Linked DNA regions of Homo sapiens. The protein of the gene in region 1 purifies or fractionates together with the protein of each later gene. This does not show direct contact. Each region holds a gene or a part of one and is shown in the gene's direction. Other genes may lie near its edges.

Region 1 (3,500 bases):
ATTGTTTTATAATTTGTGTGTGTACCTGCATGTGTATTCTCTCTATAGATATAGATACACACATGCCTACATGCATACATAACACATGCATGCATCTCTGTATACACACACACACAATTTCTCTGAAGTATTTGAGACTAAGTTGCATACCTCATACCCTTTACCACATCATTTTTTAAAAATGTCAACATATTATTCTACTTTATGGCTTTACCATAATTTATTTAAACAATTTCCATTTTTGGACATCTAGATTGCTTCTAATTGTTCCCTATTATTTATGTCTTTGTACATTCATCTTTACATGAATCCTTAGTTATTCCCTTTCTAGATGTTTCTGCATACTACAGAAGAATATAGGTTTTGAGGTTTAGACCTAGGTTTAACTTTAGCTTCATTACTGTCAGTATGATCTTGGATCTATTGTTTAGAACTTTCATCATCTCAGTCTCCCATCTGGAAAATTTTGTAAGAATTAAATAGGATAACACTTATAAAACACTTAATACAATGCCTGGCACATAGTAAATGCTCATAGTTTGCCATCATTAGTACTAGTATAAATATTTTCAGAAATGGAAGTTTTGGGTTAGACGAGGGGTCCCCAACCTCTGGGCCACAGACTGGTACTGGTCCATGGCCTGTTAGGAACCAGGCCGCACAGCAGGAGGTGAGTGGCAGGTGAGCTTTATCTGTATTTACAGCTGCACCCCATCACTCGCATTACCACCTGAACTCTGCCTCCTGTCAGATCAGTGGCTGCATTAGATTCTCATAGGGACGTGAACCCTATTGTGAACTGTCCCTGCGAGGGATTTAGATTGCATGCTGCCTATGAGAATCTAATGCCTGATGATCTGCCACTGTTTGCCATCACCCCCATATGGGACTGTCTAGTTGCAGGAAAACAAGCTTAGGGGTCCCACTGATTCCACATTATGGTGAGTTGTATAATTATTTCAGTATATATTACAATGTAATAATAGTAGAAATAAAGTACACAATAAATGTAATGCACTTGAATCATCCCAAAACCACGCCCCTCACCCCCAGTCTGTGAAAAAATGTCTTCTGTGAAACCAGTCCCTGGTGCCAAAAAGGACCATTGGGTTAGACTATATCCATATATTTGAGGCTGTTAATACATACTGCCAAATTTTCTCCAGAAAGATTATAATAATTAATACTTTCAGCTCTATCCAAGAGTTTCCATCATTAGCAATACTGAGTATATATTATTATAACGTAGTGTTTAAGGGCATGGAGTATAGAACCAGACTAACTGGATTTGAATTCCATTGCAGACTCTTATTAGCTATAAGAAGTAAGACCTGGCTGAGTGCAGTGGCTCACTCCTATAATCTCAGCACTTTGGTAGGCCAAGGTGGGAGGATTGCTTGAGCCCAGGAGTCCAAGACCAGCCTGGGCAACATAGTGAGACCCTATCTCTACAAAACGTTTTAAAAAAATTAGCTGGAAGTTGTGGCATGCACCTGTGGTCACAGCTGTTCAGGAAGCTGAGGTAACAGCATCAGCATCAGTTGAGCCCAGGAGGTCTAGGCTGCAATGAGCCATGATTGTGCCACTGCTCTCCAGCCTGGGCAACAGAGCAAGACCCTGTCTCTAGAAAAAAAAAAAGAGATCTTTGAGAATTTATAATAGACATAATTATAGCACCTTTCTTACAGATTACTTGAGTAAAACACAATAGTTTTTGACACATAGTGATTGATAAGTGTTAGCTGTTACTAATCAAACTGGTAAATATAAAATAGTTAAAAATAACATCTCATGTAATTTAAATATTAAGCTAAATTATTTTGTTCATTGGCCATTTGTATTTATTTGTTGAAGTGTTGTTTTATGTATTACCCCATTTTGCTATTGTGTTCGGCTTTCTTTGTTGTTTTGTAAGACTTTTTATTGTTAAGGATATTAACTCCTAATTCAAACTATTCTTAATAAAGTAGTTGCATTCTTAACCAAAAAATCTGTGATGAAGCAGCTTTGTGTTTGGATGGACTGCTTGTAAAATGCATGTTCCTCCTCAGACCTGCTCAGATTATTTTGGAGCAAGGCCAAGAAATTTGCAGTTTTATAAGATCCCCAGGTAATTTTTAGGCAAGGAGTCCACTGGCTATTGAAAAATATTGTCCTAGAATGGAGTTGATACTGAGACTTCTGAGTGATTTGACTCAGGCTTGACTCACAAACTAGCTCTGGGGAGGGAGGCTGATATGGAGAGAACAAAGCACAGATGACAATGATTTTCTAAATTGAGCCAGAACTAAATGGGAAAGAAAGATACACATTCAAGAGGATATGTGTTCACATAAAATAGCAGTCATGTAAAATGAAATTACCTGAGCATCTATTATAGAAGCACAAGAAAATACAGTTTCAGCTGTATTCAGGTGTGGTCAGTTATACAGTCTTACTGCTAACCAAACAAAGGGAAATCAAGGCCATGATAGTCTTCCCTCTGACAGTTATCAGGAGGCATCTTAATCTGAGAAAAATCCTGGTTTCTTGAATAAACAAGCTGAGGGGCAGTGCAACCTTAGAGAAGAGAAAGGAAGGGACTTGGAGAGAAATATGAAGGTAGAGAGCATGTGATTTCCTAGGCAATTAACTTTGACTTTTTATTCCTTTAGTCATCCTCTGATAAGTATTTTTAGTATACAATAACTAGCATAAAAAGTTCTTGATGTCTCACTTAGGGGAATATAAAGGAGAGAAATCAGATGAGAACACATAAATAAATGAAGGAAGGAAGGAAAACACTAAGTCCAAACTAGAAAGGTTAAAAAAACAGATTTATAAGATAAAGGATATAGAAGCCAAAATATTTTCCCAGCATACTTCTAATCAATACAATTTGGTACTTGATTATTTGCTTGGTTTGGGAGTAATGTCGCTTCTAATTGAATTTTTTTTCACAATTTGTCCTTTAATAATTACTTAAAATGTATGAGTATAATGTTTATTTGAATGCTGAGTTCCTAAAACATACACTGCTAAGACATTTTATGATTGTAATTCAGATTTTCTTCTTTTGTTTCTATTGACAACAAGCGAAACTTCAATATATGGTTATCTTTATTTTCCAATTCTTAGTCTTGCCTCCAGATTAACTTTGGCTGAGCTAAATCAGATCCTTTACCGATGTGAATCAGAAGAAAAGGAAGATGGTGGAGGGTGCTATGACATACCAAACTGGTCAGCCCTTAAATATGCAGGTCTTCAAGGTAAGCAAATGGAAGGATAGCTGAGCTTTGTGTTTTTCTTTTAGGGTCATCTGGTGTCTTCTTTACAGACATAGATATAGGCTCAGAGTATGCCTACTTGGGTTGCAATTATGGCTCTGCTTCTGCTCATTAATTGACCTTTGGCAAGTAATATAACCTCTTTGTGTGCCAATTTCTGCTTCTATAAAATTTGAATAATATTATCTAATTTAGAAGGTTTTTGTGAGGATTAATGAGATCATTCACATAAAA
Region 2 (3,500 bases), on another chromosome or scaffold:
AGTTTAGTTTTCCTTGCAGAGCATCGAAGATTAGTAAAAAGAGGGACTTTACTTTGGAAACAAGCAGAGGGTGTCTCTACATGCTCTGAGTCAGCAGGAGGGGGTGTGTGTGCGTGCGCGCATGCGGGAGGGTGGGTATATTTTTTCCGTGAAGAAATACTATAAATCCCAGCACTTTGGGAGGCCAAGGCAGGCAGATCACTGGAGTCCATGAGTTCGAGACCAGCCTGGGCAACATGGCAAAACCATATCTCTGCAAAAAAATACAAAAATTAGCCAAGTGTGGTGGCTCATGCCTATAGTCCCAGCTACTTGGGAGGCTGAGGTGGGAGATTTGCTTGAGCCCAGGAGGTCAAAGCTGCAGTGAGCTGTGATCATGCCATTGCAATCAGCCTGGGTGACAGAGTGAGACCCTGTCTTAAAAAAAAAAAAAAAGAAAAGACTATAGTTTTGAGTATATTTGAAATACTTTAGGGTATCTTAGATGCTAGTTGTCTATGCTGAGTAAATTTCATATTATGGTTTGGCAGTTTAAAATTCTAGGATTGTATTTAGAATTATAATCCATAAACCTAGTAATAGGCATATATAATGAAAGACACCATAATTCCTGTAAACTTAGTTTTTGGATTTTTTTCTCTCTTTTTTCTATTTAGTTTCCATCTTTTATCCACAGCCAAAAGAGAAATCCTCAGACACATCTGAAGGATCCGGACATGGTCTGGGACTTCTGGAGCCTACGTCCTGAGTCTCTGCATCAGGTATGAACCCTTTTTTGCCATTGTATTATATCACCTGGGATGCAGTGTTTAATTATGCCTCTTCATAAAGTGTCTCTCCAGTTTTGGCTATTTTATTGGAATCAGCTTCCTCAGATTTCTTGATCGTGAAGAGTTTTGTAGTAACTGGCTTTACTAATCATCCCCCATTCATCGGCCTTAAATGATGATGATGATGATGATAGATAGCTAGCAACATTGTCAGTTGATATTTAGCAGTAGTAAGGATGAAAGTCTGTAGTGTAAGGTAAAGCTCTGTATTAAGGAAGTGGGGGGAAAGTAGTACCAAACAAATTTGCTATGCAAATAAATTTTGAATAACAAATTAGGCCAGTTTTCAGGTTGTTTTGGCTTTCCTTCATAGAATTTTGAGTCATAGTATTAGTGATTTGCATATCATTTTGATTTAAAATTTTTCTGTTTGTTATTTTCTACAAGTGAAATAATAATGGTAACCCTTCCCATGGGAAATTGGCTAGTATGTTTTATGTCATTAAGGGACTTTCTGGAAACTAAGGAATATCTTAAAAATCAAGGATGTTTTGATTTAAATGAAAACATTTTAGGCTTTATATTTCTGTTCTTTAGGTTTCTTTCTTGTTCAGTGATCGGGGGATTCCAGATGGACATCGCCACATGAATGGATATGGATCACATACTTTCAAGCTGGTTAATGCAAATGGGGAGGCAGTTTATTGCAAATTCCATTATAAGGTATGTGTTACCTTTGGGGCAGAGGGTACAAGGCTCCTACCGCATACCTCCTTATTTTTCCTGAAGGATTGAGCAAAGATTAAGGCTTCTCCCACTTTTCCCTCACCTCCATCCCCAAAGTTGGGAAGTATTGATCTCATTGATCAGTACTGATTTTGTTGGCTACCATCTGAGGACCTTGGAGCGTATCCCAATCTCATTATCACTTCCAACATCCAATAGTGTCTTTCCAATATCATTTCTTTTAACTTTTTAAGTCATCCATCTATTTACTTAGCATTTATTGAGGTTTTATTATGAACAAGGCATATAAGTAAAATCAATTACAAATGTCAGAAAACAAAATTATACTGTTTTTAAAAATTTGCATTCATATAGCCAGATCAAATCAGTTACATCTGGGGAGGGTTTTGAGAATGTTTTAATCAACTGAAATATTATAAAGGGCCCTCTTTTGGTATAAGCATGGCATTTGTTACAATGAGCAATATTGCCAGTGAACCCTGGCATGTTAGTGATATTCCCAGAGAACTCCCAAGGGCTAGTCAGAAACAAGCCTGAGAACCTCTGTTTCCAAATACTGCTGCTAAGATAAGCAGAAAGAAGTGGGCTCGTGACCAGTACTGGATAATCTCTCTCTTAGTGACATCCAAAAGCCCTATTTTCTTCTATCCTGCTTTCTTCTTTATCTGAACAATTTAATGTAGGTATATCAAACAGGAAAACTATCACCTCTTTTTATATTCATAACTTGGATCTATAATATTTGACAAGGAAAAATTTTATGAAACAGTTGACCCATTGGCTTGTAATTGCCAAAAGGGTCAATGTAGTATTACTTAGAATAAGACTAAGTGGTTGTATCTAGGACAGCCAGTCTAGTTGGTAGCCTTGGAGTTATGCCAGCCTGAACTCAAATTTCTACTCTCCTAGATAATTGTGGCCTTGGGCATAGTATTAAAAGTTCTTTGAGCTCCAGTTCTTTTCACTGTGAAGTTGGCATAATATTACCAGCTATACAAGTCCTGGAAAGATTGGATTGCTTGTGGGTCTTTTATCCTAGGGCCCTAAGGTAGCCTGAGATCTACATGGATTCATCAGTCTGGATTATTCTGACCTAAGATTATTCTTTTCTAAACCTAAAGGATTCAGTTAAAATCAGAAAGGTATTGCAGTGTTATTGTACTACTTAATATATTAGCTCTTTGGGCGATCTGTACATGGTGACCTTCATTGTTTTAATCCTGAAGGTGGCTTTACTTCTTGTTCAGTAGTAAGAGTTCAAACCTTTTCACTGATGAGACAGTTGGGATTTCTGTGGTAGAAATAGACCAGCGTTCAGAGTTGATTTTTGCTAAGGAAATCTTTCTGCGGCACTTGGCTTGTTGGGAGGTCTTTGAGAATAAGATCACATGGTCAGTCCATCAAAGAACAGTATGATATGATAACAGGAGCACTTATGAAGTGACACAGCTTCTCTGGGTTTTAATGTCTTGCTTGGAAAGTCAGAATATTAATTTTGCCTGCTCATAGTCAGAGAACTAGTTCCAGGTGGCTGTACTGAAGTTCTTTTCAACTCTATGAGCTATGATTCTATGATTTATTAAAAAAAAAAAAAAAAGGAATAGGACAGGGGTGAAGGGATACTGGCCGAGCACAGTCTCAGTAATTGATTTGAGCTGTCATGAAATGGAATTAAAACATTACTTCATGATAAAAGGCAAGTAGTCCTTTAATTTTATTAATCTTTTGCCTACTTTTAAGTATATTTTGATTTTTCTGATTTGGAAAGTAACATGAGTGTAAAAATTCAAATAATAGAATACATAAAGGGAAAGATAGGACTGATTTTAAATATGAAATGTGTAGATGGGATTCCCTTGACATTTAAAAGTATTGGGATAATCAAGTAGAATTTCTTGTTGATAAATTCATTAGTATCAGATTTGAACAATAGAAGTATTGTTGTAAAGAAAGTTCATTCTTTGGGCAGTGTTACTCATAATC
Region 3 (3,500 bases), on another chromosome or scaffold:
AATTGCATGTGTTAATGTAATTTTGAACATCATATTTGCTTACAGAAATCCATTGGGTAAAAATCTATAGCATTCGTAATAACTTTGGAGAGGGTTTTGGTTAATGGGCTATTATGTGTACTAACAATATCTGTTTACCTTTCTGAATTATTCATTTTTCTTGTCTTTCAGTTTTAGAAAGAGCGTTTTCGCTACGTAAAGCACATTCGATAAAGGATATGGAAAATACTTTGCAGCTGGTGAGAAATATCATACCTCCTCTGTCTTCCACAAAGCACAAAGGGCAAGATGGAAGAATAGGCGTAGTTGGAGGCTGTCAGGAGTAAGTAGCTGATGTGCAGTGTTGGTGTTTAAAAAGTCAGTTGCTGGCTGGCTGCTTACCTGACTGTCATTCACGCTGTCTAGTTTGACCTCAGTAATCATTTCCAAATGCAGCCTGATAGGACACTCAGTATTTTTCAGTGATCCACTTTTTGATTAACTAGGAAATAACTCTGAGGAGCCCTGACTGAATTACTCCCTCATGTGTGTCAGTGTTAAGTTTTGTCGTAGTGGGGAAATGAGCCTGTTTTTTCCACTTTCTGCTTTTCTGTATTTAACTGGACTTCATACCACAAGCATGTTTTTTGTATTTAGGATAGAAACACTCAGCAACCTCTTGGTTTACTTTGTCAATTTAAAGATGTTACTGAAAGTCATTTATGAAATTTGACAAATCCCTAGCTTGCTTCTGTTCTGTTTTGCTGCTGTGTTTGGTACGTAGCTGTTTGTAAGTTGTCCTTGGGTGTGAAGGATACCTTCTGCCTCTGACGGAAAGCCTGCCGTGGCTCCTCTGTTTCTGCTTGCTTTCTGTTTGCATGGATGTGGTATCTCTCTTTGCCCATCCCTCCATTTGCAGCTGTTGATCGTGCCATAGGGTGTGTTAGAGTTGTTACTGGATCAGGTATGTGTGCATTTTACATGCTGGTGACGCTGCCGAATTGTCCCCCCATTGCGTTAGTGTGTGTTGCCTCCCAAGAGCACCTGTTCCCTGCAGCCCTTGGAGGACAACCTTTGCTAGTGAAGTCGACAAGCTTTCTTGTTGTTTTAATGCATTTCTCTTATTAGTGAGGCTTGTTTTCACATGATGGAAGAGTGTGTGCATGTATGTTGCCTGTTCTGTACTGTCTTTTGCATTTACAACGCTATTGACACCGCTTTGCAGGAGAAGGCCATGTAAGGTGATGGGTATCAGCATTTGCCCAGGTCTCTCTTTCTTGGGTTAGCAAAACATTTCACTGCTCGGAATGGACATAAAGGTTGCATTTGCCCATCTGACGGAGGGCAGGGCTCTTCCTTTCTGTGCCTGAAGTGCCCTTAGACCTGGAGAGCCAGGGATTCCAGAACAGCCAGGCGGAAGCAGCTGGGTGGTGGGTGCCGTTTCTTGTTTGTCCCAGGTGGCCCCCATCTGGCCTCTGCTGACTGTGACTCTTGGAGGACGGGGTCTGCCCACTCTGGGACCCTGTCCATGCCCGACTGCTCCGAACATGTGGTTGTCACTTTCTTCTCTCCAGGCAGAAGCCTGCGGTCAGCTCCTTACCTTGAACATTCACATTGCAGGGAGACTGCAGGCATTACTGCCAGAGATTCACTCTCCTGAAATGCATGAAGGTTTTATGTAAAAGATCGACATTTCTGGCTGGGCGCGGTGGCTCATGCCCGTCATCTTAGCATTTTGAGAGGCCGAGGCGGGCGGATCACCTGAGGTTGGGAGTTTGAGACCAGCCTGACCAACATGCAGAAACCCTGTCCCTACTAAAACTACAAAATTAGCCGGGTGTGGTGGCGCATGCCTGTAATCCCAGCTACTCAGGAGGCTGAGGCAGGAGAATCGCTTGAACCCAGGAGGCGGAGGTTGCAATGAGCCAAGATCGTGCCATTGCACTCCAGCCTGGGCAACAAGAGTGAAACTCTGTCTCAAAAAAAAAAAAAAAAAAGACATTTCTAGTCGAACCTGGTTCATGTTCATTGAACATTTGCTGAGCATCTTTTAGGTGTTGGGTTTGTGCTGTGTGCTTCATGTCTCTGTTATTTATTGATAAACCATGTCTATATTATTTATGTCTATTTTTTATTGATAACCTATTTATTGATCAAGGTATGCTTACCTTATTCTCAGAAGTTTTTGACTCTAAATACCTTCTTTTTAGGTACACTGGAGCCCCATATTTTGCAGCAATCTCAGCTCTCAAAGTGGTATGTTTACTTAAAATTTCTTTATTGGGATTTTTCTGGTAGAGAGTTTGATTATTTAAATATGATTAAAGCAAATGTTTTCTGATAGAAATCTAAATAATATCTTAGGGTAATCATAGCTAATAGAAACACCGTTAAGTCTATCCTGACATCTGTGCATAAACAAGATCACTTCAGTTGAAGCTCATTTTTTTTTGAGACAGAGTTTCGCTCTTTTTGCCCAGGCTGGAGTGCAATGGCGGGATCTCGGCTCACAGCAACCTCCGCCGCCTGGGTTCAAGCGATTCTCCTGCCTCAGCCTCCCGAGTAGCTGGGATTACAGGCACCTGCCACCACGCCTGGCTAATTTTGTTTGTATTTTTAGTAGAGTCAGGTTTTCTCTCTGTTGGTCAGGCTGGTCTCGAACTCCTGACCTCACGTGATCCATGCGCCTCGGCCTCCCGAAGTGCTGGGATTACAGGCGTGAGCCACTGCACCTGGCCTCAATTGAAGCCCATTTTTAAAACCTAAAGCGTGATTTGTATTGTACTCCACCAAAGTGCACCTGGGATGCCTTTGTAGGTCGCAGCTGAAGCCGCTGATCCTGCAGTTTCCCATGAGCTGAGCAAGTGCTAACGGCCGGCCTCTTCCTGTGACCCTTCCTCCTGGAGGGTGACCAGACCGAGCTGGGCCGTGCTGGTGTGTGTGGCTCTGACCCTGCCTCTGCAGTGGCGGCAAAAGTCTTTCTTTTTAGGTATTGTGCTCTGCGCCCTGGCCCTTTGCTAAGCCACCTGGCTGGGTGTAATCCGAGCTAGTACGTTTCTCATGCACGTCACCAGGGCTGAGTAATGAGCGCTGGACGCCTGTGTCTGGCGGGTGGGCAGCGATGCCGGAGCGATCCCTGAGTCGGCCTCTTGTGCTCCTTCATCAGGGCGCAGACTTGTCCCACGTGTTCTGTGCCAGTGCGGCCGCACCTGTGATTAAGGCCTACAGCCCGGAGCTGATCGTCCACCCAGTTCTGTGAGTCGCTCTGCGCCGGCTTCTCGTAGGTTCTCTTTCCCTCCTGCATCATTTGGGGTTTTGGCACTGACACCGAAAGCGTCCTGATGGATTTTCCATCCTCAGAGTTTCTCAGCAGGTGCTGTAGAGGAAGTAGGGAAATGAAGGAGCCCGTTCTTCTGGGGTCAGAATAAGACAGAGACGGCGGGGTGGAGAGGTGGGTGGGGGAGCTTGGGCCTGTTGGAAATGGCCGGGGCCCAGCTCCAGAGGCAGGGAGGCCCTGTGGG
Region 4 (3,500 bases), on another chromosome or scaffold:
CGCCCAGGTGGGCAGATCACATGAGGCCAGGAGTTCAAGACCAGCCTGGCCAACATGGCAAAACCCCATCTCTACTAAAAATACAAAATTAGCCAGGTATGGTGACGCATGCCTGTAATCCCAGCTACTTGGAAGGCTGAGGCACGAGAATCGCTTGAGCCTGGGAGGTGGTTGCAGTGAACCGAGATTACACCACTGAACTCCAGCCTGGGTGACAGAGTGAGACTTTGTCTCAAAACAAACAAACAAAAACCCTGAAGTGATTTTTGTGTACACTCAAGTTTGAGAACACCTGTCTCAGGAGCAGTGCTGCAAATGCCCAGAAGATACTTTTCTTCCTGCCAACCTCTTTTTTATCTTCTAAAGCATGAAATACTATGATTTTTAAAAGGAAAACAGTGGTACCTAAAGCTGATATCTTATCTAGCTCTTTAAGAGTCCCAGAAAAGTAGATTCCAAACTCCTGATGTGACAGGCAATAATACATGATAAAGATTATTTTTGCCTTGACCTAGAAAACAGAATGTAAATTCAGTCATTTACTGACTGCGAACCCTTGAAAAAGTCAAATAACCTCACTGACTCAGTATGCACAAGTGTCAAATTGAGAGAGAAATTTCTACCCTTCCTCTGTCACTGGATAGTTGTGTTACCCAAAGAGAACCTGTATAAGGCATTTGTAGACAGCAGAGTCATACGTAAGCTGAAGGGATTGTTCAAGTTCACTTAGGAAAAATTGCAAACAACCCATTTTCTTGTATATGATCTATTCTGCTAGTTTAATTAATAGTTTTAAAGCAGTAATTATTCAGATATTATTCAGTTTATGCTGCTGCCTGCCCATGCCCAAAGGTGAAGGGAAAGAGCTCAGAAAGAAGACATGATTTATAAGGATTCTATTTCTTAGTTCTTATTTCCTTCGACATGGAAAGAAGACTCCCCCTGCTTTTTTTTTTGAGGCGGAGTCTCACTCTGTCGCCCAGGCTGGAGTGCAGGAGCATGATCTCTACTCCCTGCAACCTCCACCTCCCGGGTTCAAGCAATTCTTGTGCCTCAGCCTCCCTAGTAGCTGGGATTATAGGTGAGCGCCACCATGCCTGGCTAATTTTTGTAGTTTTAGTAGAGACAGGGTTTCACCGTGTTGGCCAGGCTGGCATCAAACTCCCGGCCTCAAGTGATCCACCCACCTTGGCCTCCCAGAGTGCTGGGATCACAGGTGTGAGCCACCGTGCCCGGCAGAAAAGAAGACATTCTAATGATTGGGTGTTGTAGGCAAGATGGTCTTGCAGACATGAACCTGTAAAAGTTACTAGTTAAGATTATATTATAAACTGAGGACAATGCTACGCAAGAAAAATATATTCCAGGTCCCTGGGGCAGTTTATAGGTCCTAGGGCAGCTGTGTGCTGGAGACCCCCCAGTTTCCAGCTGCCTAACAACAACAGGATAGAACTGTTGGGCTATTGTTTTGTCCTGTTACATGAGTGATTCCTGATTCAGCAGGAAAATATTTTCAGTAGAGTTTTAGGCAACTTTATAGAACTTTCATGCCCAGTGAAATAAATTATTTGAATGGAGCTTAGCTCGTCACAGAATCAAAGAACTGCCTGATTTCCTGAAGACTAACATCTTTGAAGAACAGAGCATATGACTAAGAAGTGAGCACAGAATCTGAGAATCCTAATGGATAGCTTTATTCAGGAGGTTCAAACCCAGCCCTTTCTGGGAGTCTACAGCCTTATCTGTAGCACTAGAAAGCAGCAAATATGAAACCTTTTTAGCATTCTCTGTGTCAGCACTGAGAGAGGACAGTAATGTGCTACACCTCCCCTGTTTTGCACTGTGAGGACTTCTGTGGGTTAAGTGTGAATTAAAGCGTGCTATGAACACTCCAGGCCAAGGCCAGAGCTGGGCTCGGGTTTATTACATGTAATTCTCAGTGGCAGCTCTTTCTGAGCATTACATACAACTCCCTGCAACCCATAAAGGCTGCAGCTGCTTTAAAGTTATTTAACAAACAGTATTTTTAACAGTAGTCCTTAAGCTTTTCGGGGTCTCAGGTCCCTTTGCAAATCTTGTAAAATAACAAGAAAAATTCACATTTCTACAAGTTTGAATCATTTTGGAGGGGTTTATAGAATTCTTGAAGCTCAAGCATGGGTCCAGTGTAAAGAATCGTATATTATAGAGTTTTATTATTACTTTGGACAGCAGGTTTATCATAATTTTCTTGAATTATCTTTAACTTAATGTTGTTGTTAACTCCAAACTCCCAACAGCTTAAATCTTTTAAAGGGAAGAATTGATCTAGTCACCTTTGTTTTGGGAAACATATATTTTTGGTGTTTAAGTTTACTGGCTTGGATTGAGAAAGTTTTCTCTGGCATTTGAATTTATTTTTAATTTCTAACTATAGAAGAAGAGGCAAGAAATTATGATCTAAGACAAGACAACTCACAAGAGTAATCCCTTATTAGCCAATCATAGAGTTTATACTTTCTCTTTTAGCCAAGTAATTAGAATTGTCAGTTTTATTTATTAGATTTAACCCACACAGTCAAAGAGTTCAGTCAAAGGGAAACAAAAATAGTGATGGTTCAACCTTGTCAGTGAATGAATAATTTAAATTAAAATATTTTCTTATTGTTTTATATGTATATCCAATTATTTAAGAATTAATGCAAATTATAATTAAAACTCATACCTTGATAGTGATGTAATAAATTGATACAAACTTCTAGGAGACCAGTCTGAAAATATGCATTAAAAAGCATCATGTTCTTTTACTGCATTACTTTTCTTCTGTGATTTTAGCCTAAAGAAGTAATTCAGAAGAACACACAATCCAGTGATGTTTGCAACAAAGGTGATTTTTAGCAACACTATTTAGACTAGCAAATAGTGGGAACAGCCTACTTACCAACAATTGGGGAATGGTTAGGCAAGTCATGGTACATTTGACTCACTGCAATTTTATATAGACATTAAAAATGAAAAATACAAAGAAAATGTACTGATACAAAATACTCATATAAAAGTGTTTATAAAATATGTGGAAAATATAGTTCTGAGTTGTTCATACGATTGATTACAAACGTGTTATATACAATTGATTACAAATTACTGTGAACTCAGATGAATAAACGTAGAGATGCAGATAACTGTGGAGCCAGTGTGATGAGGGTTTTATGCATTTTTCTCTAAAGTTTGTCTGTTTACATTAAGCCAGAGGGTGACAGCACTTTTTCCTATGACAGTGTAGTTTTTGCCTTTTCCCTAGTCAACACAGACACAGAAACCGCCGTTGTCAACGTCACATATGCAACAAGAGAAGAAGCAAAAATGTAAGCAGATTTGGGCTTATTTCTGTTTAAATTTATTTGTTTTTATATTTGAATTCCATTGAGTTCTGTGTTTTTAAATGTTTTCTAAAAAGATGCAGATCTTTGAGCTGGATATGTGCCACCTTTGACATACCCATGGAGCTCCACGGCATCTGA

What was found. Proteins that work in one complex are often made in the same cells at the same time.
Region 2: the proteins of AGL (region 1) and CAT fractionate together in Homo sapiens (co-fractionation; one large-scale study listed by BioGRID). This does not show direct contact.
Region 3: the proteins of AGL (region 1) and NAXD fractionate together in Homo sapiens (co-fractionation; one large-scale study listed by BioGRID). This does not show direct contact.
Region 4: the proteins of AGL (region 1) and IGF2BP2 fractionate together in Homo sapiens (co-fractionation; one large-scale study listed by BioGRID). This does not show direct contact.

What each region holds. Positions count from the first base shown.
Region 1 is NC_000001.11:99,884,861-99,888,360, forward strand, and holds part of AGL (glycogen debranching enzyme), read left to right. Parts: intron 1-3,117; coding exon 3,118-3,248; intron 3,249-3,500. UniProt on the Homo sapiens protein: Multifunctional enzyme acting as 1,4-alpha-D-glucan:1,4-alpha-D-glucan 4-alpha-D-glycosyltransferase and amylo-1,6-glucosidase in glycogen degradation.
Region 2 is NC_000011.10:34,452,434-34,455,933, forward strand, and holds part of CAT (catalase), read left to right. Parts: intron 1-656; coding exon 657-761; intron 762-1,367; coding exon 1,368-1,493; intron 1,494-3,500. UniProt on the Homo sapiens protein: Catalyzes the degradation of hydrogen peroxide (H(2)O(2)) generated by peroxisomal oxidases to water and oxygen, thereby protecting cells from the toxic effects of hydrogen peroxide.
Region 3 is NC_000013.11:110,622,045-110,625,544, forward strand, and holds part of NAXD (ATP-dependent (S)-NAD(P)H-hydrate dehydratase), read left to right. Parts: intron 1-171; coding exon 172-322; intron 323-2,189; coding exon 2,190-2,235; intron 2,236-3,145; coding exon 3,146-3,234; intron 3,235-3,500. UniProt on the Homo sapiens protein: Catalyzes the dehydration of the S-form of NAD(P)HX at the expense of ATP, which is converted to ADP.
Region 4 is NC_000003.12:185,692,543-185,696,042, reverse strand, and holds part of IGF2BP2 (insulin-like growth factor 2 mRNA-binding protein 2), read left to right. Parts: intron 1-2,814; coding exon of another isoform or gene 2,815-2,866; intron 2,867-3,262; coding exon of another isoform or gene 3,263-3,280; coding exon 3,281-3,344; intron 3,345-3,500.